Homo sapiens: one gene and its partners. The protein of the gene in region 4 interacts with the protein of the main gene of each other region in a biochemical or structural test. Each region holds a gene or a part of one and is shown on either strand. Other genes may lie near its edges. The genes, in order: ITGA2B, TERT, STMN2 and CIB1.

The links.
Region 1: the proteins of CIB1 (region 4) and ITGA2B form a complex in vitro, tested with the Homo sapiens proteins (one study listed by BioGRID).
Region 2: the proteins of CIB1 (region 4) and TERT form a complex in vitro, tested with the Homo sapiens proteins (2 studies listed by BioGRID).
Region 3: the proteins of CIB1 (region 4) and STMN2 form a complex in vitro, tested with the Homo sapiens proteins (one study listed by IntAct).

What each region holds. Positions count from the first base shown.
Region 1 is NC_000017.11:44,379,650-44,386,679, forward strand, and holds part of ITGA2B (integrin alpha-IIb preproprotein), read right to left. Parts: intron 6,483-7,030; coding exon 6,361-6,482; intron 6,273-6,360; coding exon 6,175-6,272; intron 6,068-6,174; coding exon 5,902-6,067; intron 5,687-5,901; coding exon 5,637-5,686; intron 5,561-5,636; coding exon 5,515-5,560; intron 5,428-5,514; coding exon 5,299-5,427; intron 4,937-5,298; coding exon 4,889-4,936; intron 4,706-4,888; coding exon 4,662-4,705; intron 4,490-4,661; coding exon 4,436-4,489; intron 4,298-4,435; coding exon 4,245-4,297; intron 4,056-4,244; coding exon 3,844-4,055; intron 1,413-3,843; coding exon 1,230-1,412; intron 997-1,229; coding exon 951-996; intron 842-950; coding exon 737-841; intron 653-736; coding exon 597-652; intron 505-596; coding exon 353-504; intron 166-352; coding exon 40-165; intron 1-39. UniProt on the Homo sapiens protein: Integrin alpha-IIb/beta-3 is a receptor for fibronectin, fibrinogen, plasminogen, prothrombin, thrombospondin and vitronectin. It recognizes the sequence R-G-D in a wide array of ligands.
Region 2 is NC_000005.10:1,278,040-1,285,069, reverse strand, and holds part of TERT (telomerase reverse transcriptase), read left to right. Parts: intron 1-2,445; coding exon 2,446-2,641; intron 2,642-4,731; coding exon 4,732-4,912; intron 4,913-5,599; coding exon 5,600-5,779; intron 5,780-6,273; coding exon 6,274-6,429; intron 6,430-7,030. UniProt on the Homo sapiens protein: Telomerase is a ribonucleoprotein enzyme essential for the replication of chromosome termini in most eukaryotes. Active in progenitor and cancer cells. Inactive, or very low activity, in normal somatic cells.
Region 3 is NC_000008.11:79,663,106-79,666,677, reverse strand, and holds the end of STMN2 (stathmin-2), read right to left. Parts: intron 3,099-3,572; coding exon of another isoform or gene 3,017-3,098; intron 1,864-3,016; coding exon 1,804-1,863; 3' UTR 520-1,803; downstream 1-519. UniProt on the Homo sapiens protein: Regulator of microtubule stability. When phosphorylated by MAPK8, stabilizes microtubules and consequently controls neurite length in cortical neurons.
Region 4 is NC_000015.10:90,230,929-90,238,879, forward strand, and holds the start of CIB1 (calcium and integrin-binding protein 1), read right to left. Parts: upstream 3,014-7,951; 5' UTR 2,958-3,013; coding exon 2,907-2,957; intron 2,776-2,906; coding exon 2,741-2,775; intron 1,520-2,740; coding exon of another isoform or gene 1,400-1,519; coding exon 1,291-1,399; intron 580-1,290; coding exon 429-579; intron 286-428; coding exon 167-285; intron 95-166; coding exon 6-94; coding exon of another isoform or gene 1-5. UniProt on the Homo sapiens protein: Calcium-binding protein that plays a role in the regulation of numerous cellular processes, such as cell differentiation, cell division, cell proliferation, cell migration, thrombosis, angiogenesis, cardiac hypertrophy and apoptosis.

The DNA of each region.
Region 1 (7,030 bases), on a different chromosome or scaffold from region 4:
GGTCCTGCACCTCCCTGGCCTGTCCCTGCCTGTCCCTACCTGCTCCTGCACATGGGTGTCTCCATGCAGCACGACAGCAGGGGCCATTCCAGCCTCCGTGGGCGGTAGGGACACATTGAGGCTGAGCACAATGGGGCTCAGCTTGTCCCGGAAGTCTGCCTCATCCTAGGACAGGGGCAAGAGTCAGGCCATCTTGCTACCATACACATCCCACCTTCTCCTGGCCAGTAGGCACCGTGTCCTGACCACCCCCGGACTCACAGCACCCAGCTCAGTGCCCCAGGGCTAGATGAACAAGTCCAGTGGGTAAGTTCTACTCTCCCAGCCCTGCCAATCCCCTGCCTGGGCGTACTCGAAGGAAGGCCATGGTGGTGTGGCAGATGGGGCTGTGCTTTCCGCCCAGATCCAGGTTCAGGGTGGTGCCTGCCTGTTGAGAGCCCAGCAGCAGCACCCGCCGGCCCTGGCGGGGCTTCTGCCGGTCCAGCTGCAGCTCGGCATTTAGGGCTGGCAGGGCAAGCAGAAGAGTCAGGACCTCCCTGGCCAGCCTCCGGGGGAGTCCAAGCCCACCTCCCTCCTGCCCCCTTCATGCCACTCACATAGCTTCTGAGGAATGTTGTGCCCAGTGGCTCCAACACACATCTGGATGTTGAAGCTGCAAAGACGTAAGTGGGGCTCAGGGGTTGGAGCCTTTCTGAGGTCCCAGATCCTTTAAGGCCCATGCCCTCTGCCTCCTCACCAGCTCACGGGTGTCTTGGTCTGAGGTAGGACACAGCTCTTCACAGCAGGATTCAGTGAATCTTGCACCAGTAGCTGGACAGAGGCCTTCACCACTGGCTGAGCTCTGATGGGATAGGGTGATGGGGTAGGCTTGCCATTGTGGCTCCTCCTGGCCTGGCCTCCTCTTGATGGCACAGGACCTTCCCCATCCCGCCCCTGGAGCCAGTGCTCACCTGTACACAGCCACCTGGTTGGCCCCGTAAGCTCCCACGATCAGGTCTATAGACATCGAGGAATGGGTCAGAATTGGCGATTAGGGCATGGGATCCTCATCTCATCTTCCCAGGGGTTCCCCACACCACCTCCCCCACTGGAGGTTTCACCCAGCCCCTCTGGCAGTCCATAGTGGGACACCAGGCCAGGCATGAGCCCCTGGCCGTGTCTCTTGGCACTTCCAGCGAATGTCCAAGGGCCTTTCTTGGGCATTTCTAGCTGGAGGCAGTCCAGGGCACCTGGGTATCCGTTGTCATCGATGTCTACGGCACCTCGAAGGGAGAAGCCAAAGGCAGAGCCTGTGGGGAAGGGGCTGTCCAGGACCTGGGAGGGACGTGACCTCAGCCCCTCACTCTGACCCAGGAACACCAGCACTTGGCCCCGGCCACTGGGACCCCCGTAGGGGGCAGCCACTGCAATGTCTGGAAGGAGTAACAGAAAGGAAGTGGCTGATTGTTATTCAGCCTCCCTAGATGACTGTAAAACTTTCCTGAGCTTCTCTGGGAACATCCCAGGAGACTAGGAAAGGGGTGCAAAGTGTGGGTGAAGGAGGCACTGCCCTACCCTCCAGGAGTTAACAATCAGGTGGGAGAGGGACCTGCCAAGTAGGATTGTTATAAAAACAGTGACAACTCTCACTGTCTATTGAGGAAAATATATCCTGAAAATTAAGCATCATTATTCCCTTTTCTAAATTTTTTTTTTTTTGAGATGGAGTCTCGCTCTGTTGTCCTGGCTGGAGTGCAGTGGTGCGATCTCGGCTCACTGCAACCTCTGCCTCCCCCGTTAAAGTGATTCTTGTGCCTCAGCCTCTTCAGTAGCTGGGATTACAGGCGCCTACCACCATGCCCGGCTAATTTTTGTATTTTCAGTAGAGACGGGGTTTCACCACATTGGCCAGGCTGATCTCGAACTCCTGACCTCAAGTGATCTGCCCACCTTGGGCTCCCAAAGTGCTGGGATTACAGGTGTGAGCCACCGTGCCCAAGCCCCTTTTAAAATTTTTTTATTTTTAAGACAGTCTTGCACTGTCATTCAGGCTGAAGTGCAGTGGTGCAACCATGGCTTACTGCAGCCTCAACCTTCTGGACTAAAGCAATCCTCCCACCTCAGCTTCCCAAGCAGTTGAGACTATAGCCACCATGCCCAGCTAATTTTTAAAAATTTTTATGGAGACGAGATCTCCCTATGTTGGCCAGGCTGGTGTCAAACTCCTAGGCTCCAGTGATCCTCCTGCCTCGGCCTCCCAAAGTGCTGGGATTCCAGGTGTGAGCCACCGTGCCTGGCCATCTAGCATCTATTTCTAGCCTTCTCCATTCCATCAAACTCCCAGACCCCCCACACTTCCTTCAGCAGGTGACGTAATCTCTTACTTCAGGAAGAGAGGCAGCCCACTGTTATGCTATAATCCCACACCAACTTTCTTTTCCCTTTCCCCATTTGACCCTGGAAGAGGTTTCCTTCCTTCACCCTGACACTGGGCCAGTCACCCTCCCACCCCCTGAGGCATCACAGGGACTCTCTGCTGGCTCATCCCCCCATTTCCCCACAACATCATTTTCAACCTACTACATGTTCTTCCACATTGAAATAATCTTCCCTTGACCCTCATCTCTTTTCTGTGATCACCTTTTCTCTTTTTCCTCTTATAGTCAAACATGTTTTTTTTTTTCCTTTCTATTCCTCAAATTCCTTTTTACCACAAACCTGTTGAAAGAGCTGTCTACATTAGCTGCATCCAATTTTTCATCTCCATTCATACCTTACCCCATTGCATTCTGGCTTCTGACCCTATCTTGGCCTGAATCAATTTATGTCACTGTCACCAATAACCTCCCCTTCTTTTTTCTTTCTTCCTTTCTTTCTCTATTTTTTTTTTTATTTTGTTGAGATGGAGTCTTGCTCTGTCACCCAGGCTGGAGTGCAGTAGTGGCGCAAGCTCAGCTCAGTGCAACCTCCACTTCCCGGGTTCAAGAGATTCTCCTGCTTCAATTTCCCAAGTAGCTGGGATTACAGGTATGAGCCACCATGCCTGGCACCCTCTTCTTGCTAAAGCCCATGAATATTTCTCCAGCCCCACCTAATTGTATCTTGCAGCAGCAGCAGGAGCTGCAGCGCCCACTTCCTCCTGTGCATGCTCTTTAACGCATGCTCTTCCTTGAGTCCCGGGCCATCAGACCCCCTGGGTTCCCTCCTCCCTCTCTGGACACTCCTCTGTCTCCTTCTCAGACTTACCTCCTGTAGGAGTCACCTAAATGCTTTTGCTCCCTAGGGCTCTATCCTGGGCCTCTTATTTCACAGGTCCCGGGACCTCATCCACTTTCCCCAAACCCCTGTCTCCCATTCAGATCTCTCTTGTGGAAGCGGGGAGAGCCACTCCCAACTGTTCTTTGGATATTTCCGCCTAAAGCACCCAAGCCCTTCAAGCTCAACAGGTCCAGAGCTGAACTGCTGATCTCCCGCCTCTCCCCAGCACCTGCTGCACGGCCTGAGTTCCAGGCAGTGGAGGCCATCACAGGCACCCAACTCCAACCTCTCCCCTGGCCCCACATCCAGTCTCCCACCAAGTCCTAATAATCCGAGTCCTAAATATCTGTGAAGTCACTCCCATCTCTAACTCCACTGCCAAAATCCACATCCAGGTGGTCATTGTCTCTTGCTTGGATTAAGGCAAACACTTCCTAATTAGTCTTCAACTCTCCCATCTGCTCTCCACTCAGCACCCCATGTGTCTAAGCCACATACTTATATGCTTAAAACCCATCCTGGTTCTGGCTGCCCTCAGGCCAACTCCATGCTTTTTGAGTGGCTGTTAACCCCTCTGCAGCAAGTAGGGCTCCTCTCTTCCCTCACCATTGTAGCCATCCCGGTCGAGGTCGCCCAGGGGTGCGATGGCAGAGCCGAATCGCCCATAGAGCTGTGTGCCAGTCAGCAGGAGGCTGGGGGCACCCAGCGCGTGGGGGCCTCGCGGCTGCAGGAACAAATACACACGCCCCACTTCGGCCAGTTTTCGGTCTGCCCGGCTCTCCATATACAGTGGAGCGCCCACCAGCAGATCATGCCTCCTGTGGGCCAGATGAGTGGTTACATGGGACTGGACCAGGGGTATATTGGGGCTAGGGCCAAATCTCCTCGACCCTTGCTCTCCTGTTCCTCCAGTGGATACGTGAGACTAGGGCTAGGAAAGGGAGACAGAGGGCAGCTCTGGTAATTTGGGACCCAACTGGGTAGGGGTGGGGCATGTCCCTCCTCACCCATCCCCGTTGACGTCAGTGACAGCCACTGAATGCCCAAAATACGACGCCATCTGCAAGATGAGGAGCACCATCATTCACGCCGCTGGACAAGCATCCTCTTTAAGAAATGGGCCCTCACCTCCCATGAAATATTCTGAAGTCTCAGTTCCCCCTCCACCCAGCCACGCCCACTGGGACCTGGCCCCCACCTGCTCTCCGCGCAGCCGATGCAGCCTCTGGTAGTAGGAATCCAAAATTTCCACCTGCACGGACAGCGCAGGCGAGAGCATCATTCTTGTACCCAAAGCAACCTCCCACTCCAGGTGAGAAAGGGTGGTTTGGTGGAGGCGGGGCGGGGGTGGGGGGCGCTCAGGAGTTGTCAGCCTGAGAACTGGGATAAGGGGCTTCGGGAGGCCCAGTGGTGGGGGCACTTACCGCTCCCAGGGTCCAGCTCCAAGTGGGGGCACCGACGACATATTCTGGCGATAGGGAGAGCCAGGCTCAGGGAATGAGAGCCTTAGAACCTACCCACTTCCCGCTCCCCGTTCTGCACCCAGGGAAAAATGTGTGTGCAGGAAGATTTCCCTACATAGGGGAGATTTCAGGAAGGCGCTCCTCCCCGGGCTGGGCTACCCAACTCCCGCCCTAAGTGGATTTCTTGCCTGTAGTGTTGAGATCCCCGTCGAACTCGCCCACGGCCACCGAGTACCCTGAGGACAAGGGCGCAAATTAGTCTTTTCCAGGGGAGGAAGCACAGAGGGGACGGAGGGCAAAGAAGGAGGAGATTAAGGCCACTCAGCCCCAGCCCTGCATTGTGCAGATGGAAAAACGGAGGCCTTCGAGGGGCCAAGCCCTGCCCCAGGCTGCGCTACGAGTCCGCAGTGGAAGGGAGCGGTGGGCGCATGGGAGGTGGGCGGTCTGCGGGGAAGCCGCAGGAGCGGAGGGCGGGAGCGGCTTAGGCGGTGGGTTGGCCGGCAGGGGTGGCCATGGAGGCTCCCACAGGGGCAGGACCTGACCGTCTGCGGTGGGCGGTGACCCTCGGGGTGCTGGAAGTCTGGAATGGCGGTGTTACCCCAGTAGCCGTCGAAGTACTCTGGGTTGCTGGAGTCAAAGGAGAGGCTCTGGGAGGACACGTGCCACAAAAGGATGCCTGGGCGGTAACTCGAGAAAATATCCGCAACTGGAGCCTGGGCCAGGAGACCTAGGGCGGGAGGGACAGCGGGTGTGAAGCCCAAAGCGGTCTCCTTGGGCCGCGAGAAGGGAGGGAGGTGTACGGATGGGCACGTACCTAAGAAATAATAGCCGCCAGGAGCCCCAAGCACCAGCTCTCCGGCCTGGAAGGGAAGTCCTGAGGGTGAGAGGGGGCCCTGTTTGGGAGCCGCCCCCACTGCGCTTTTGCTCCCTACTCGCCTGAGTGACCACGGAGCTGAAGCCCGCTTCACAGTAACGCTTGTCCCAGCCTGCAGGAGACAAGGAGGAGGGGTCAGCGCAGGGGTGAAGGGAGGCGCGCGCGAGCCCGGAGGAGGGCTGGGGGACAGGGGCGGGGCCTTGAGTCGGCGGGGCCCTGGGGCGAGGCCAGATCCAAAGCAAGGGCTGCGGCGCTGGGGGCGGGATCCGATGGGGGCGGGGCCAAGCCGTCGCGAGTGGGCGGGGCCAGGTCGTAGCTGGCGCTTACTAAAATCATTTTCCACGTAAATGCGGCTCAGGGTGTTCCCGCGACAGGGGGAGTACTCGGCGCGGCGGCCGCTCTCTGGCTGAGCCAAAAAGCAGCTACCTACGGGCGTCTTCTCAGCCTCCTCAGTCTTTTCTAGGACGTTCCAGTGCTGCCAGGGGGCGCAGGCCTGGAGAAAGGCCACAGGAGTGGGGACGGGCGCGAGACTTGGGCTCCTCCTGGCCCCAGGTGTCCCTGCCCCCGATTGTTCCCTGTGCCCTGTACCGCGGGGCCCACCACAATGACGTCGCTCCAGCTGACGACCGACGCCCCCAGTCCTTGGCGGGCCTTGAAGGTTTGTAAAGTTTGGGAGCCTACATTTCGGGTCTCATCACCTGGAAGGCACAAGAAGGGGTGGGGCGCTGAAGCCCGGCAGTCCACGTCCCTCTGACCCCAACCTTGCTCTCCTTGCCTGGGACTCACGGAGGTCAAAGAGCAGCGAGGGGCACTGGCCGCCCTCGGCCCTCCAGGGGCACAGGAACACGCCGCCCGTCTCCTCCTGGCTGGGGCCCAGGGTCCGCGGGGCGCCCACCACGATGGCCACTCTGCATAGGAAAGCTGGGTGAGCGCCGCGCAGATTCCAGCGTATCCCAGGCCCTGGCGCCGGCGCTGGGAGCACTGCCCGGAAGGCCATGTGGCATGGGGGCACTGGACCATCTTTCCTCAATGACACCTCACAGACCACCGTGATGTACTTCTTCATCTTATGGACAGTGAAACCGACTCTCAGCGAGGGCAATCACGTGGCTAAAGTAACCCAGTGAGTTGAGAGTAGAGCTGGGACTATAACCATTTGGTTTGATTTGAACACCAGGGGTTTGAGATCTTTGCTGAAAAAGACCTAAACTCTGTACAACACCTCCATCCTTCCACCCGCAACAAGAACCAGCGGTTCACATGCTCCCTGGAATGCCTGCCTAGACTGTTACCAGATCCCCTCTTGAGAGCTGGTTTTAATGAGGGAAGGTAGCGGGTACCTCTAAAGTGGGGCTGGAGTGTGTGTGCTGATAGGAGGACCCTAGCAGATCTAGGTTTAAATCACAATTCTGCCATATGTGAAATAGGAATACCAATTTCATAACCAATGACTGGT
Region 2 (7,030 bases), on a different chromosome or scaffold from region 4:
GTGAGGTCTCCAGGCCCTCGGTGAGCTGGAGGTATGGAGTCCGGATGATGCAGGTCCGGGGTGAGGTCGCCAGGCCCTGCTGTGAGCTGGATGTGTGGTGTCTGGATGGTGCAGGTCTGGGGTGAGGTCACCAGGCCCTGCGGTGAGCTGGGTGTGCGGTGTCTGGATGGTGCAGGTCTGGAGTGAGGTCGCCAGACGGTGCCAGACCGTGCGGTGAGCTGGATATGCGGTGTCCGGATGGTGCAGGTCTGGGGTGAGGTTGCCAGGCCCTGCTGTGAGTTGGATGTGGGGTGTCCGGATGCTGCAGGTCCGGTGTGAGGTCACCAGGCCCTGCTGTGAGCTGGATGTGTGGTGTCTGGATGGTGCAGGTCTGGGGTGAGGTCGCCAGGCCCTGCTGTGAGCTGGATGTGTGGTGTCTGGATGGTGCAGGTCTGGAGTGAGGTCGCCAGGCCCTCGGTGAGCTGGATGTGCAGTGTCCAGATGGTGCAGGTCCGGGGTGAGGTCGCCAGACCCTGCGGTGAGCTGGATGTGCGGTGTCTGGATGGTGCAGGTCTGGAGTGAGGTCGCCAGGCCCTCGGTGAGCTGGATGTATGGAGTCCGGATGGTGCCGGTCCGGGGTGAGGTCGCCAGACCCTGCTGTGAGCTGGATATGCGGTGTCCGGATGGTGCAGGTCAGGGGTGAGGTCTCCAGGCCCTCGGTGAGCTGGAGGTATGGAGTCCGGATGATGCAGGTCCGGGGTGAGGTCGCCAGGCCCTGCTGTGAGCTGGATGTGCGGCGTCTGGATGGTGCAGGTCTGGGGTGTGGTCGCCAGGCCCTCGGTGAGCTGGAGGTATGGAGTCCGGATGATGCAGGTCCGGGGTGAGGTCGCCAGGCCCTGCTGTGAGCTGGATGTGCGGCGTCTGGATGGTGCAGGTCTGGGGTGTGGTCGCCAGGCCCTCGGTGAGCTGGAGGTATGGAGTCCGGATGATGCAGGTCCGGGGTGAGGTTGCCAGGCCCTGCTGTGAGCTGGATGTGCTGTATCCGGATGGTGCAGGTCCGGGGTGAGGTCGCCAGGCCCTGCTGTGAGCTGGATGTGCTGTATCCGGATGGTGCAGGTCTGGGGTGAGGTCACCAGGCCCTGCGGTGAGCTGGTTGTGCAGTGTCCGGTTGCTGCAGGTCCGGGGTGAGTTCGCCAGGCCCTCGGTGAGCTGGATGTGCGGTGTCCCCGTGTCCGGATGGTGCAGGTCCAGGGTGAGGTCGCTAGGCCCTTGGTGGGCTGGATGTGCCGTGTCCGGATGGTGCAGGTCTGGGGTGAGGTCGCCAGGCCTTTGGTGAGCTGGATGTGCGGTGTCTGCATGGTGCATGTCTGGGGTGAGGTCGCCAGGCCCTTGGTGGGCTGGATGTGTGGTGTCCGGATGGTGCAGGTCCGGCGTGAGGTCGCCAGGCCCTGCTGTGAGCTGGATGTGCGGTGTCTGGATGGTGCAGGTCCGGGGTGAGGTAGCCAAGGCCTTCGGTGAGCTGGATGTGGGGTGTCCGGATGGTGCAGGTCCGGGGTGAGGTCGCCAGGCCCTGCGGTTAGCTGGATATGCGGTGTCCGGATGGTGCAGGTCCGGGGTGAGGTCACCAGGCCCTGCGGTTAGCTGGATGTGCGGTGTCTGGATGGTGCAGGTCCGGGGTGAGGTCGCCAGGCCCTGCTGTGAGCTGGATGTGCTGTATCCAGATGGTGCAGGTCCGGGGTGAGGTCGCCAGGCCCTGCAGTGAGCTGGATGTGCTGTATCCGGATGGTGCAGGTCTGGCGTGAGGTCGCCAGGCCCTGCGGTTAGCTGGATATGCGGTGTCGGATGGTGCAGGTCCGGGGTGAGGTCACCAGGCCCTGCGGTTAGCTGGATGTGTGGTGTCCGGATGGTGCAGGTCTGGGGTGAGGTCGCCAGGCCCTGCTGTGAGCTGGATGTGCTGTATCCGGATGGTGCAGGTCCGGGGTGAGGTCGCCAGGCCCTGCGGTGAGCTGGATGTGCTGTATCCGGATGGTGCAGGTCTGGCGTGAGGTCGCCAGGCCCTGCGGTGAGCTGGATGTGCAGTGTACGGATGGTGCAGGTCCGGAGTGAGGTCGCCAGGCCCTGCGGTGGGCTGTATGTGTGTTGTCTGGATGGTGCAGGTCCGGGGTGAGTTCGCCAGGCCCTGCGGTGAGCTGGATGTGTGGTGTCTGGATGCTGCAGGTCCGGGGTGAGTTCGCCAGGCCCTCGGTGAGCTGGATATGCGGTGTCCCCGTGTCCGAATGGTGCAGGTCCAGGGTGAGGTCGCCAGGCCCTTGGTGGGCTGGATGTGCCGTGTCCGGATGGTGCAGGTCTGGGGTGAGGTCGCCAGGCCCTTGGTGAGCTGGATGTGCGGTGTCCGGATGGTGCAGGTCCGGGGTGAGGTCACCAGGCCCTCGGTGATCTGGATGTGGCATGTCCTTCTCGTTTAAGGGGTTGGCTGTGTTCCGGCCGCAGAGCACCGTCTGCGTGAGGAGATCCTGGCCAAGTTCCTGCACTGGCTGATGAGTGTGTACGTCGTCGAGCTGCTCAGGTCTTTCTTTTATGTCACGGAGACCACGTTTCAAAAGAACAGGCTCTTTTTCTACCGGAAGAGTGTCTGGAGCAAGTTGCAAAGCATTGGAATCAGGTACTGTATCCCCACGCCAGGCCTCTGCTTCTCGAAGTCCTGGAACACCAGCCCGGCCTCAGCATGCGCCTGTCTCCACTTGCCTGTGCTTCCCTGGCTGTGCAGCTCTGGGCTGGGAGCCAGGGGCCCCGTCACAGGCCTGGTCCAAGTGGATTCTGTGCAAGGCTCTGACTGCCTGGAGCTCACGTTCTCTTACTTGTAAAATCAGGAGTTTGTGCCAAGTGGTCTCTAGGGTTTGTAAAGCAGAAGGGATTTAAATTAGATGGAAACACTACCACTAGCCTCCTTGCCTTTCCCTGGGATGTGGGTCTGATTCTCTCTCTCTTTTTTTTTTCTTTTTTGAGATGGAGTCTCACTCTGTTGCCCAGGCTGGAGTGCAGTGGCATAATCTTGGCTCACTGCAACCTCCACCTCCTGGGTTTAAGCGATTCACCAGCCTCAGCCTCCTAAGTAGCTGGGATTACAGGCACCTGCCACCACGCCTGGCTAATTTTTGTACTTTTAGGAGAGACGGGGTTTCACCATGTTGGCCAGGCTGGTCTCGAACTCATGACCTCAGGTGATCCACCCACCTTGGCCTCCCAAAGTGCTGGGTTTACAGGCTAAGCCACCGTGCCCAGCCCCCGATTCTCTTTTAATTCATGCTGTTCTGTATGAATCTTCAATCTATTGGATTTAGGTCATGAGAGGATAAAATCCCACCCACTTGGCGACTCACTGCAGGGAGCACCTGTGCAGGGAGCACCTGGGGATAGGAGAGTTCCACCATGAGCTAACTTCTAGGTGGCTGCATTTGAATGGCTGTGAGATTTTGTCTGCAATGTTCGGCTGATGAGAGTGTGAGATTGTGACAGATTCAAGCTGGATTTGCATCAGTGAGGGACGGGAGCGCTGGTCTGGGAGATGCCAGCCTGGCTGAGCCCAGGCCATGGTATTAGCTTCTCCGTGTCCCGCCCAGGCTGACTGTGGAGGGCTTTAGTCAGAAGATCAGGGCTTCCCCAGCTCCCCTGCACACTCGAGTCCCTGGGGGGCCTTGTGACACCCCATGCCCCAAATCAGGATGTCTGCAGAGGGAGCTGGCAGCAGACCTCGTCAGAGGTAACACAGCCTCTGGGCTGGGGACCCCGACGTGGTGCTGGGGCCATTTCCTTGCATCTGGGGGAGGGTCAGGGCTTTCCCTGTGGGAACAAGTTAATACACAATGCACCTTACTTAGACTTTACACGTATTTAATGGTGTGCGACCCAACATGGTCATTTGACCAGTATTTTGGAAAGAATTTAATTGGGGTGACCGGAAGGAGCAGACAGACGTGGTGGTCCCCAAGATGCTCCTTGTCACTACTGGGACTGTTGTTCTGCCTGGGGGGCCTTGGAGGCCCCTCCTCCCTGGACAGGGTACCGTGCCTTTTCTACTCTGCTGGGCCTGCGGCCTGCGGTCAGGGCACCAGCTCCGGAGCACCCGCGGCCCCAGTGTCCACGGAGTGCCAGGCTGTCAGCCACAGATGCCCAGGTCCAGGTGTGGCCGCTCCAGCCCCCGTGCCCCCATGGGTGGTTTTGGGGGAAAAGGCCAAAGGGCAGAGGTGTCAGGAGACTGGTGGGCTCATGAGAGCTGATTCTGCTCCTTGGCTGAGCTGCCCTGAGCAGCCTCTCCCGCCCTCTCCATCTGAAGGGATGTGGCTCTTTCTACCTGGGGGTCCTGCCTGGGGCCAGCCTTGGGCTACCCCAGTGGCTGTACCAGAGGGACAGGCATCCTGTGTGGAGGGGCATGGGTTCACGTGGCCCCAGATGCAGCCTGGGACCAGGCTCCCTGGTGCTGATGGTGGGACAGTCACCCTGGGGGTTGACCGCCGGACTGGGCGTCCCCAGGGTTGACTATAGGACCAGGTGTCCAGGTGCCCTGCAAGTAGAGGGGCTCTCAGAGGCGTCTGGCTGGCATGGGTGGACGTGGCCCCGGGCATGGCCTTCAGCGTGTGCTGCCGTGGGTGCCCTGAGCCCTCACTGAGTCGGTGGGGGCTTGTGGCTTCCCGTGAGCTTCCCCCTAGTCTGTTGTCTGGCTGAGCAAGCCTCCTGAGGGGCTCTCTATTGCAGACAGCACTTGAAGAGGGTGCAGCTGCGGGAGCTGTCGGAAGCAGAGGTCAGGCAGCATCGGGAAGCCAGGCCCGCCCTGCTGACGTCCAGACTCCGCTTCATCCCCAAGCCTGACGGGCTGCGGCCGATTGTGAACATGGACTACGTCGTGGGAGCCAGAACGTTCCGCAGAGAAAAGAGGGTGGCTGTGCTTTGGTTTAACTTCCTTTTTAAACAGAAGTGCGTTTGAGCCCCACATTTGGTATCAGCTTAGATGAAGGGCCCGGAGGAGGGGCCACGGGACACAGCCAGGGCCATGGCACGGCGCCAACCCATTTGTGCGCACAGTGAGGTGGCCGAGGTGCCGGTGCCTCCAGAAAAGCAGCGTGGGGGTGTAGGGGGAGCTCCTGGGGCAGGGACAGGCTCTGAGGACCACAAGAAGCAGCCGGGCCAGGGCCTGGATGCAGCACGGCCCGAGGTCCTGGATCCGTGTCCTGCTGTGGTGCGCAGCCTCCGTGCGCTTCCGCTTACGGGGCCCGGGGACCAGGCCACGACTGCCAGGAGCCCACCGGGCTCTGAGGATCCTGGACCTTGCCCCACGGCTCCTGCACCCCACCCCTGTGGCTGCGGTGGCTGCGGTGACCCCGTCATCTGAGGAGAGTGTGGGGTGAGGTGGACAGAGGTGTGGCATGAGGATCCCGTGTGCAACACACATGCGGCCAGGAACCCGTTTCAAACAGGGTCTGAGGAAGCTGGGAGGGGTTCTAGGTCCCGGGTCTGGGTGGCTGGGGACACTGGGGAGGGGCTGCTTCTCCCCTGGGTCCCTATGGTGGGGTGGGCACTTGGCCGGATCCACTTTCCTGACTGTCTCCCATGCTGTCCCCGCCAGGCCGAGCGTCTCACCTCGAGGGTGAAGGCACTGTTCAGCGTGCTCAACTACGAGCGGGCGCGGCGCCCCGGCCTCCTGGGCGCCTCTGTGCTGGGCCTGGACGATATCCACAGGGCCTGGCGCACCTTCGTGCTGCGTGTGCGGGCCCAGGACCCGCCGCCTGAGCTGTACTTTGTCAAGGTGGGTGCCGGGGACCCCCGTGAGCAGCCCTGCTGGACCTTGGGAGTGGCTGCCTGATTGGCACCTCATGTTGGGTGGAGGAGGTACTCCTGGGTGGGCCGCAGGGAGTGCAGGTGACCCTGTCACTGTTGAGGACACACCTGGCACCTAGGGTGGAGGCCTTCAGCCTTTCCTGCAGCACATGGGGCCGACTGTGCACCCTGACTGCCCGGGCTCCTATTCCCAAGGAGGGTCCCACTGGATTCCAGTTTCCGTCAGAGAAGGAACCGCAACGGCTCAGCCACCAGGCCCCGGTGCCTTGCACCCCAGTCCTGAGCCAGGGGTCTCCTGTCCTGAGGCTCAGAGAGGGGACACAGCCCGCCCTGCCCTTGGGGTCTGGAGTGGTGGGGGTCAGAGAGAGAGTGGGGGACACCGCCAGGCCAGGCCCTGAGGGCAGAGGTGATGTCTGAGTTTCTGCGTGGCCACTGTCAGTCTCCTCGCCTCCACTCACACAGGTGGATGTGACGGGCGCGTACGACACCATCCCCCAGGACAGGCTCACGGAGGTCATCGCCAGCATCATCAAACCCCAGAACACGTACTGCGTGCGTCGGTATGCCGTGGTCCAGAAGGCCGCCCATGGGCACGTCCGCAAGGCCTTCAAGAGCCACGTAAGGTTCACGTGTGATAGTCGTGTCCAGGATGTGTGTCTCTGGGATATGAATGTGTCTAGAATGCAGTCGTGTCTGTGATGCGTTTCTGTGGTGGAGGTACTTCCATGATTTACACATCTGTGATATGCGTGTGTGGCACGTGTGTGTCGTGGTGCATGTATCTGTGGCGTGCATATTTGTGGTGTGTGTGTGTGTGGCACGTGTGTGTCCATGGTGTGTGTGCCTGTGGTGTGCATGTGTGTGTGTCTGTGACACGTGCATGTTCATGCTGTGTGCTGCATGTCTGTGATGTGCCTATTTGTGGTGTGTGTGTGTGCATGTGTCCGTGACATATGCGTGTCTATGGCATGGGTGTGTGTGGCCCCTTGGCCTTACTCCTTCCTCCTCCAGGCATGGTCCGCACCATTGTCCTCACGCTCTCGGGTGCTGGTTTGGGGAGCTCCACATTCAGGGTCCTCACTTCTAGCATGGGTGCCCCTGTCCTGTCACAGGGCTGGGCCTTGGAGACTGTAAGCCAGGTTTGAGAGGAGAGTAGGGATGCTGGTGGTACCTTCCTGGACCCCTGGCACCCCCAGGACCCCAGTCTGGCCTATGCCGG
Region 3 (3,572 bases), on a different chromosome or scaffold from region 4:
TTTCTGCTAAAACTGGATGTGGTTCCTTTGGTCCTGTAAGATCCATTTGGGTCACTGACAGGACCCTGCTGCGCCCATGTGTGCAGTGTGTTTATTGGCAGTACAAAATTCAGCAGTACGTCAGGGATCACATCTTAACAGACGGCCTAGGCTGGGGGAGGCGTTCTGTGGGCCACAGGGGAGAACTTGAGATAATGCCAGGAACCTTCAATGTTTTGAAAAGGGCTCACTTCCTCAGAATTATCAGTCTGCATTTTGTGGTATCTTGTTCAGTCCTGTATGTTTTTAAAGGGAGCAGATTGAAGACCTCTCCCACAGTGTTGGCCCATCAGAGGGCAAGAGAAAAGAGATGCGGCCTGCTGTTCCCAAAGGGAAATGACTCAGCAGGGCACTGGTTTCCTTCAAACTCTCCTTATTATCTCTTTGCTTGTGAGATTGTCTAATTCAGTGGCTGCCCTTTTAAAATCTGAACTCCAGGGTCAGACACATGAAGAGGCAAGAGAACAGACCAAACCTTTATTAGTTCACAGAACTCCAATTCTTTATTAATCACAGCTTGCTCACAATGACATACAGGAAAATAGCACTAATGAAGAGTAAATATGCAGGCAGCAACCTTCAGGAGTTGGGAGTTGGGGAGAAACGACTTCAAAACTGCGATAGGTACTTATGGTGGGTATCTGGTGATTCTTAGTTGGCACAAATGCCCTGCCTAGCCCCCTTAACTGCGTCAGCTTCACAGATGGAGTGTTTTGTTGTTGGTGTTGTTAGTAGGCAGGATTGCCTTACACTGGGGAAGAAAGACCAGCTTGAGTGAAAGTCCGCAGTGTTTTTGATTTTGTTTGTATGTGTGTTTTAATGCAACAACCAGCTCACAGTTTCCAAGTGGAAAAATATTCAGTAGCATCATGTACTTGTACTATAGGTAAGAGCTTAAAATGAACATCATCAATCATGGCATCCACAAATAAGCCACCTGACACATTAATTAATTCATTCCATCAAAAGAACTTAAACTAGAGAATTAAGCCCACTTTATGAAGAGCGATTTCACGGCTGCTTGAACCATTCGAATTTGGATTTGTGTTCAGCACTTTAAAAGGTTCAACTTTTTGCTTCTACCCAGATTGGTCTCAGGTCTGTCTTCTCATCCATCCCTTTCTAAAGCCAAAGCACATTTGTAGCACATAATCCAGGAGAAGCAGAAGTAAATGCTATGACTGGTGGTATTTCTTAGCCTGGTTTTGTAGTTTTTAGGCAGTAAGTAGATTATGAGCGAACAAATGTGAAGGTTCATGTGGAGTCATAATACCTGTGATCTAGGTATGGTCTTAGTCAAGCTCAGAGACAACAAAGCCTTCTAGGTCATTAGGCAATGGTGGGTTTCTAGCACCATAGACTGTCTACTGACCTCATTTTTCTTTTGGAATGGAGTTAGACATGGGGAGCTTCAAAAAGAACAGACCTAGCAAATTCATTTGAGTGGAAAGACACAACATCAAAAGCCTGTTACAGGACATGTAAGATTATGAAATAACTTGCATAATGCAATACTTGTATTTTTTAACAAAAATGTAAGTATTTACAAAATAAGATCCAAGGTATTTTTTAAACATCAAGCAAAACATTCTGCAAAGAGACCGCATTGATTTTTTTTAATTTTTGATTTTTTTTGTTTTTTTTTTTTTATAATGAGTTCTTTTTAAACCATGTCATACATTCCCCATCCTGATATCGCATGATCCATTATAATATAGGCAGGGGGATTTACTATTGGTGGGGCGTGCCAGACCCTCCCTTGCTTCAGCCAGACAGTTCAACCTGGAGTTCCTTGTTCCTGCGCACCTCCGCAGCATGCCTCTCCTAAAAAACACAAAAGGAAGAAGAAATGTCACAGGCCCTTTTTGTCTGGTCCTTTGCGTACCATGCGCTTGACTAGAAGTAACCCAGTTTGGTGTCTACTTTTATGAATTTTTCCCATTTCAGAAGGAAAATATGGGCCCTGCAAAATGTCATGTTAGAAAAGATCTTACAAGACTTACTGTGTTTTAAAAAATATATTTAACACTGTTTTTGTTTAAAACTATGACCAAAAGTTCATGTTATTAAGATAGTTTTGAATATTAGGATCAGAGTATAAATCCAGAGAAAGGTAATAAAACATCACATTATTGTTTCTCTATCATTTCTAATGATGTCGTTCCTTTTGACTAATATTTTAAGGACTTTATAATCCTGATGGACACTCTGGGAGGGCTAGATCCAGGACGAAGACTTTCTATACTGCTTCTTAAACTCTTGACCTGTTTGTCAAGGCCCTTCATAATTGCAGTCCAAGTGACGTTTCCAGTCATAACCCCCATCTTTTCCTACACACACTTGATGTTTCAGTTTAATGGAATTGTCTTGTCATGCAATTTTCAATGCTAGTCTTTCATCTCCACTGGTCAGGATTATAAACTTACTCTTTAAGCCCTATGACCATTGTCCTTTTCTCCATAAAGATTTTTATGAGACTGCAAAGACTAACCTGCAAACTTATCTCACTTTCCATTTGAACACCTGCATAAATCTTTCCTTTTATTCGGCAGTCATTTTATTCTAGTTGTATTATGAGCCTCTCTGTTCTTGTCTCCTCTATTATATTTGACTGTAAGCTCATTGAGGGCCTGGACTATGTTTTATCATTTTTTTTTCCATTTGCAGGGCCTAGCAGAGTGCTTTGCAGATAGCATGTAATTGGTGGATGTTTATTTACATAAGGAACCAAGGTACTAGCCTGGGATTGGGAACTGAACTTCCTGAGGAGGGAACTGATGGAGGAAGTATTTTTTAGTATGTGGCTATACATCAGATGACTAAAATCAGTATTTTTTAGTATGTGGCTATACATCAGATGACTAAAATCAAACTGTCTTGCATATATCATAGGCGCTAAATAAATGTTCATTGAATTGAAATTTTAAGATGCTAATTATTAGTAGTATTATTTATATTTCTGTAGAATGTTGCTTACATTGCTTCTCTCCTTCCCTCTGAAGCTCCAGAAATTGAGACTCTATAGATTCTTTTAGTTCAGAAGAAATAAACTTGACCAGCTATAAAGTAAAACTTATCGTTAAACTCTATTAATCTCAAGGAGTCTACACTTATAGGGTTCTTTATATCATAATACTGAATATTTATTAGGCACTTAATGTGTACCAGACCTGCATCAGTACACGTTTTACCTGTATTAATTCCCTTAATCCTCACAATAATCTTATAGTGGACATTCTATTATTGTCCCCATTTTGCAGATGAAGAAACTGAAACACAGGAAGGGTAAGTAACTTGCCCATCTTCATGATACTAACAAGTGGGATTTAAACCCAGGGAACCTGGCTCTACAGCTCACTCTCTTAATCACTGCTATACAATTTCAATGTTGAGTGAGGAGAACATTTTATAGTTGCATGGAAAAATGTGTCTTTTCAAGTGTAGATTCTGGGAGAAAAAAGGCATAGACCACCCTATACTTCCTTCAAAGATACAGAGTTGGAGTAAGCAGGAAGTTGACTCTAGAGAAAGAG
Region 4 (7,951 bases):
CATACCTGGCAAAGTCTGGAGAACGGGAGATGACGTGCTGGAACTCAGAGAGGTTGATGGTTCCATCCCTGTCAATGTCAGACTCCTCCAGGATCTGGGAAAGGGAGAGTTTCAGGCCAGAGCCCCAACTGCTCCCTCCCGCTCCCAGGCCTGCTCAGCTGCTCACGTTGTCGATGAGCTGCTTCATCTCAGACGCACTAAGCCGTGTGTCCTCGCCCTCTCCCGTGAGGCAGTTCACCAGCCGGCTCAGGTCTTCTCTGTTCAAGGTTCCGTCATCATCAAAGTCTAGAGAGCAGACACAGGAAGCCAAAAGACACGGTTGGGAGGGGCTCTGAGGTTCCCCAAACGGCGCCCATTTCCCAAGCAGGGCCACCACAAAGCCCACGTGGGAAGGGGTGGTGTCCTGCCGGGCTGCTCCTGGTTCTCACCAAAGATGCGGAAGGCATAATGGGACTTGATGTCTGGCGTGGCTGTGTCACTGAACACACTGAGGAGATCCAGGAAGTCCTCAAAGCTAAGGCTGTCTTTGGCTGGGGATGTGGAGAAGACCCTGCAGATTCGCTCCTTGAAGGGGTTGGCCTAGGAGAACAAACGCCACAGGACGTGGCCCAGGTCACACGCTCATTAAAGCCTACCAGAAACTTGAGAGAGCAGGTCACAGGACCAGCACCAGCGAGCTCAGCCTCGTGGGGGTGAACAGTCAGTGCTTTGGGGCCAACATGGAGGGCAGTGGGGGCACAGGAAAGCAAACTGACCCAGCTGGGGAAGGGACTGAGATGGCTTCCTGGGAGTCAAGTGTTTAACCCAAAGGCAGGTCACATACAACGTAAGTGTGGGCAGAGAGGGAAGAAGAAGTCATCCTAAACAAAGGGAACGAGATGGGCTGGTTATTTTAAAACACAAATATTTACTTGAACAGCTATTGTGTTACAGGCACCGGGCCAGGCCCTTTGCACAGAAATTTTGCAGCAGCCTTACGGAGTGGCAATCAGCCTCTAGAACACGGTTCCTCAAACTCTAATGAGGTACCTCAACTCCTCTTAAGGGACAAAACTTCTTTGAACTTCCAAGATTATGTTCTAGAATCCCCATTTGAAAAGCACCATTCTAGATAATTCTGCCAGGTGATTTTGGTAAAGTCCTTGCCCCTAGAAAATCAGAACTAAGCAGAAAAATGACCAGAGTGGGGACCAGTGACCCCATGATCCCAAAGCTAGTGGCAGATGGAGTTAGGGGGTCTAGCAGGGAGGGAGTGGTGGGAGAGGTGTCAAAGGAGGGGAGCGCTTGCACCTTGAGCTCTGGAAGGCTGAGAATCTGCTCGAAGGGCACTTGTGCCCGAAGTGACGACTCCACGCTCCGCTGCTCCTGGGGAAGCAGCTCACAAAACCGCCTGTGGGCTCTGGTAGAGAGAGGGGAACTGTCGGTGTTCTCAGCGATCGGTCTCCCTGTGTGTTCATTCCCACTCCTTGCCTGCTGCTCATTGTCAACCAGGTGAGGAGCTAAAACCACGTACACAGAACTTCCGAGTCATCAGGCAACGGTAAGCAAAAGGACATGTCACAAGGCAGTACAGCCTAGGAGTCTATTCTTGCAATGAGTATTTACTGAGCATTTACTATGTGCTTGGCACTGATTCTAGAGATCCCCAAGGGATGAAGAAGTTGGGAAAGGAGCCAGAAGTTGGCCCTAAAGAATTGGCCAGGCACGGTGGCTCACACCTGTAATCCCAGCACTTTGGGAGGCCAAGGCGGGCGGAGCTTTGGAGGTCAGGCGTCTGAGACCAGTCTGAGCAACATGGTGAACCCCTTCTCTACTAAAAATACAAAAATTAGCCGGGCATGGTGGCGGGTGCCTATAATCCCAGCTACTCAGGAGGCTGAGGCAGGAGAATCACTTGAACCCGGAGGCAGGAGAATCACTTGAACCCGGAGGCAGAGCCTGCAGTGAGCCAAGATCGTGCCCCAGCACTCCAGCCTGGGCGACAGAGCGAGACGCTGTCTCAAAAAAAAAAAAACGGAGAAAAGAGCAAAACCAAAAATCTCATTCTCACCTTCACTCCAGGGATCTCTTACCCTCAAAGCCTCCTTTTTAGCAACCACACTGAACTGTCCTCCTCGGCCTCCACCTCCTTCCCATGAGCTTATCTTTGCCACAGGAACCTGGCCTGCATAAATCCGGCAAAAGGGCTTCCAGCCCAAGTTCAAATCTACTTACTCAGAGTGTTGTCTTAAGCAGTTACCAAACCTTTCTGAACCTGTTTCATTGTCCAGTACCTCTCTCCTAAAGATTAAATTAGGTAACGCAGGCAACCATTTAGCACAGTCCCTGGCACATGGTGAGTGCTCAGAAAGCGATAACGGTTACTGTATTATTCAGGTAAAGTTGGGAGAAGGAGCCGGGCTCCCCAAGGCTTCTGTGGTTTAGCCACTGGGCAAGGTCGGCCCCTGCCGGACTGGGGCAGGAAGTTCGGCAGTGCTGAAGCTAGTGGAGCCCAGGGTCAAAGAGCGCCTAACTTTTCCTGGAGGCTGTAAGGTGGCTCCGCGGTGCCACGCTGGGGCCTCAGGCGAGGGCGGGGAGGGCGTGCCGGGAGGAGGGCGCAGCCCGGGCTAGGTCTCCCGGCCTCCAGCTCCCGCTCCTCTGCAGACCTCAGGCCAGCCCCCGCCCCTCCCTCGGGACAGCGCCCCCGAAGCTGTCTCTAGAGGATCCCGGGGTCGGAGGCAGGGTTCAAGGCAGCACTTACAGGAGGATCTCCTGCTTCGTCAGGAACGTCAAGTCCTGGAAGGCAAAGCCAGAGCGGGGATTAGCGGACCGCTGGGAGGCCGCGGCCGCCCCGCAGCCAGCTCCCGGACCCTGCTCCCGAGAAGAGGCCCGCACGCGAGCTCCCCAGGGCCAGGCGTCCCGCGCACCTGGTACTCGGCCAGCAGCTCCTTGGACAGGCGACTGCCCGAGCCCCCCATCGCCCCGCCGCGCGCACAGCTCCGCCAACTCGCCTCGAGACGCAGACAACTTTCTCACTTCCGCCCTTGGGCCGCGTCACTGCCCGGTCCCCGCGGCAACCGCTCCTGGGGCCACCACCCCCGGGCCCGCCCCCTCCTAAAAGCTGCCAGGCGTTCCCAGCCGGGTTTGGCAGGCGAGCTGCCGGCTCCAAGCGGTCCTAGGCGAGCTGGAGGCGGGGCCCGGGGAGGGGCCCGACGCTCCGGGGCGGAGCCCGGGACTCACGGCCCCGCCTCCGGGGTGGGAGGGGGGGGCGGGCCACGCCGCGCGCGTGCGTGCTGGCTGCGTATGCGTCACGGGCGTCATGACCTCGCTGTGGCCCCGGCAGCGGCTGCGGGGAAAGTCGCGAGGTGCATCCGCTTCGGCTGCAGTAGGTGGTGGCGGCGGCAGCCCTGGGTGGGGTCCCATAGGGGCATCTGAGAAGTCACTGGAGCTAGCGTTTCCGGGAAACCTGGAGACTCGCTGAGTGGCGGGGGTCGTCGGCTGCCCCTCTGCCCAGCAAGGGCTTTTCTAGATGTTATCATCAGGCAATCGCTGCACCTGTCGCAGCCCCCAAGCCACCTCTTCCAGAAGTAACCATAACCTTGCTTCCTTCTTAGGCTATTTACTGAGGACCCACTGGATGTCAAGCATTGTGCATAGTTTTCTTCGATTGTTGCAACATCCCTTGCGAGGTAGGTTCCCATTTTACAAAGATGGAAATACGTAAGTCCAAAGGGTGTTAGTGATTTTTCCGGGCGCCGGCATTTAGAAGGTAATCGGTCCAGTCCAAGGCACTTTTAAAGGCTCTCCACTGCTGTTCTCATCATTCCAGCTGACCTGCCGTCCTTTTGACTCCATCTCACCCCTAGACTGCTGACCCTTTGCTCTTGTCCCCTCTTAACCTCTAGGATAATGTTTGGCACATAGTAGGCTCTCAGTAAATATTATCGAATGCATAATAAATGAATGAACGTATACTATTGCAAAAGGTAAGGATTCCAAACTGCTGGGAGGAGGAAGTGGAGGTTGTGTTGGTCAGGCTGGGATTAATTCTTGATCCTTCCAATCCATTATACTTGCTGATCTTTGTAAAGTCTAAATCTGAGTATGTTAGTCTCAGTTTATAACCATTAAATGGTTAAAAACCCAAATCCTGGCCCTCTGTAACTGGACTTCCTCCTATTGGCTCTCTGTCTTTCAGCCACTTTGGGCCCTCAGTCCCTCTTCCATCTCATCCTCAGGGAAGCCTTTCCTGACTCCCTAGACTGCCTAGGAATCTACTTTACACTGGAAGAATACCCAGTGCTCTCCTTGGCAGCATGTGTTTGATAAGACACACTGTATTAACAGGTACATTCCATCATTGTAGAAATATTCAAGGCCAGGCGCGGTGGCTCATGCCTGTAATCTCAGCACTTTGGGAGGCTGAAGCAGGCGGATCATTTGAGGCCAGGAGTTCAAGACCAGCATGGCCAACATGGCAAAACCCCATCTCTACTAAAAATACAAAAATTAGCCAGACATGGTTAAACCTGGGAGCTGGAGGTTGCAGTGAGCGGAGATTGTGCCACTGCAGTCCAGCCTGGGCAACAGAGTGAGACTCTGTCTCAAAAAATAAAAATAAAAAAAAATAACTAGGGTATAGGCCCATCCCAACCTGATCATTTTTCTCTTTTTTTTTGAGACAGAGTCTCGCTGTGTCGCCTAGGCTGGAGTGCAGTGGCATGATCTTGGCTCACTGCAAGCTCCGCCTCCTGGGTTCACGCCATTCTTCTACCTTAGCCTCCCCAGCAGCTGGGACTACAGGCACCCGCCACCACACCCGGCTAATTTTTTTGTATTTTTGGTAGAGACGGGGTTTCACCCTGTTAGCCAGGATGGTCTGGATCTCCTGACCTCGTGATTCGCCCACCTCGGCCTCTCAAAGTGCTGGGATTACAGGCGTGACCCACCGTGCCCGGCCGATCATTTTTCTCTTAATAGCAGGCTCTTTCTGTCCGAGAAAGAGTTAGTCTTCTGTTAGTAAAAGCTTAGGCAAAAAGCAAGAAGCTGTCATTATGTCTCCTGTACTAAATAGACCTTGTTTGCCTCTTACAAGCCAAGGCGAATACCTGGACTGCATGGTAATAAGTATCTGTCTTCTTTTTTTTTGAGACAGAGTTTCACTCCTGTTGCCCAGGCTGGAGTGCAATGGCATGATCTCAGCTCACCGCAACCTCCGCCTCCTGAGTTCAAGCAGTTCTCCTGCCTCAGCCTCCTGAATAGCTCGGATTACAGGCATGTGCCACCACACCCAGCTAGTTTTGTATTTTTAGTAGAGACGGGGTTTCTCCATGTTGGTCAGGCTTGTCTCGAACTCCCAACCTCAGGTGATCGCCTGTCTTGGCCTCCCAAAGTGCTAGGATTACAGGCGTGCGCCACTGCACCCAGCCATAAGTATCTCTTTATAGTGAAGACATGAGAGTCAGCTTTGTGCCTGGTGACCAGCTGTGATCTAGATCTCTCAGTCACTTCACTTGGCTCTGAACCCTTCATGGAACAACCTTTGGTTTTCATTTTGCTTCCTGATTCATTTTGTACACTGACCAGCCAGCAAGAACCTTTTGTGCCATTTGGCATATTTCTCATTGTAAATTATTTTTATTTGTGAGATGGAGTCTCACTCTGTCACCAGGCTGGAGTACAGTGGTATGATCTTGGCTTACTGCAACCTCTGCCTCCCAGGTTCACCTGATTCTCATGCCTCAGCCTCCTGAGTAGCTGGGATTACAGGAGTGCACCACCACGCCCAGCTAATTTTTGTATTTTTTTTTAGTAGAGACGGGGTTTCACCATGTCGGCCAGGATGGTCTCGATCTCCTGATCTCTTGATCCGCCTCCCTCAGCCTCCCAAAGTGCTGAGCCACCACGCCCGGCCTCTCATGGTAGATTATTAAATGGGCAGTCTGAATCATTTGGTAGTCCTCGGTGAATCTGGTTAGCATATTGTCCCTCCTGTACCTGATCAACTCTTGGTACAGTGATAAAACCGAGCTGCTGATATACTTTTATTTTTTATTTTATTTATTTTTTTGAGACAGAGTCTCACTCTGTCACCAGGCTGGAGTGCAGTGGTGCGATCTTAGCTCACTGCAACCTCTGCCTCCCAGATTCAAGCGATTCTCCTGCCTTAGCCTCCCGAGTAGCTGAGATTACAGACGCCCACTACCACACCTGGCTAATTTTTTTGTATTTTTAGTAGAGACAGGGTTTCACCATATTGGCCAGGCTGGTCTCGAACTCCTGACCTCGTGATCCACCCACCTTGGCCCCCCAGAGTGCTGGGATTACAGGCGTGAGCCACCGTGCCCGGACTTTATTGTAATTTTCTTTTTTTCCCTTTTTTTTTTTTTTTTTGAGATGGAGTCTTGCTCTGTCACCAGGCTGGAATGCAGTGGCACCACCTCAGTTCACCACAACCTCCACCTCCCAGGTTCAAGTGATTCTCCTGCCTCAGCCTCCCAAGTAGCTGGGACTACAGGTGTGTGCCCACCACCACGCCCAGCTAATTTTTGTATTTTTAGTAGACACAGGGTTTCACCATGTTGGCCAGGATGGTCTCGGTATCTTGACCTCGTGATTCACCTGCGTCAGCCTCCCAATGTGCTGGTCCAGGGATTACAGGTGTGAGCCACCGCACCCAGCCCCTCATTGTGATTTTGATTTGCCTTTTCTTATTGATTAATGACGTTAAACATCCCAAATGTGCTTGTTGGCCATCTTTATATCTTATTTGAAAAAATGTCTAAGATTATCTCTTTTTTTTCTCCTTTTTTTGGTTTTGTATTATTTTTATTATCTCATTTTAAATTTTTTCGCCTGTCAGATAAGATTCTCTTTTATTAGAATAAGATACTACATTAGTCAGGCCTGGTGCAAGTGCCTGTGGTCCCAGCTACTTGGGAGGCTGAGGTGGATGGATTGCTTGAGTCTGGGAGGCAGACATTGCAGTAAGGTGAGAATAAGATACTACATTTGATCATCAAAATTATGCTTAGCTTCACTTTTTTGTTGTTGTTGTCTTTTACCTTGCAGCTCCAGCTCAAAGGATTAGCTTCACTTTTAAACATTTTTGGCCAGGTGCGGTGGCTCACGCCTGTAATCCCAGCACTTTGGGAGGCCAACGCAGGTGGATCACCTGAGGTCAGGAGTTCGAGACCAGCCTGGCCAACATGGTGAAACCTGGTCTTTCCTAAAAATACAAACATTAGCCGGGCGTGGTGACACACACCTGTAGTCCCAGCTACTCAGGAGGCTGAGGCATGAAAATCACTTGAACCTGGGTGGTGGAGGTTGCAGTGAGCCAAGATCGTGCCACTGCACTGCAGCCTGGCTGACAGAGTGAGATTCTGTCTTTAAAAAAAAAATTGACCATCTGAACCATTTCTAAGTGTATAGTCGTGTTAAGCACATTCACGATGTTGTGCGGCAAATCTCCAGGACGTTTTCATCTTGCAAACTAAGCCTCAATACTCATTAAACTTAGCTTGACTTTTGATATGTAATTTTTTATATGTTTTGTTTCCTTTCTGTTTTATTAACATGAAGTTTCTGGAGCAGCAGAGCTGAAGGAACCCAAACTTGGACTGAAGTGACTCTACTAAGGTAATGCCTCCTTTTGACATCCTATCTGGGCCAGTGGCAGACCCCTCTCCCTGACAGTGCTGGGTCCAGGGCTCCAGGCAGCCAGGGGAAGATGAAGACAGGCACTAATTTCCCCCTTGAAAGGTTGGCCCTGGACACTTACCCACACATCAGTGCCATCCTCACCCAAATGTTTCTATGCATGACCAATTGGAATCACTATGGAACATGGAAAAGCTTTTCCCACAAAAGAAGTGGTCATCTTTGAAACCCTGAGCACTCTCATGCACTGGAACTCAGGTATGATTTTCTGGAGGGCAGTTTGATGGTGTGTATAAAAAATCTGAGCCAT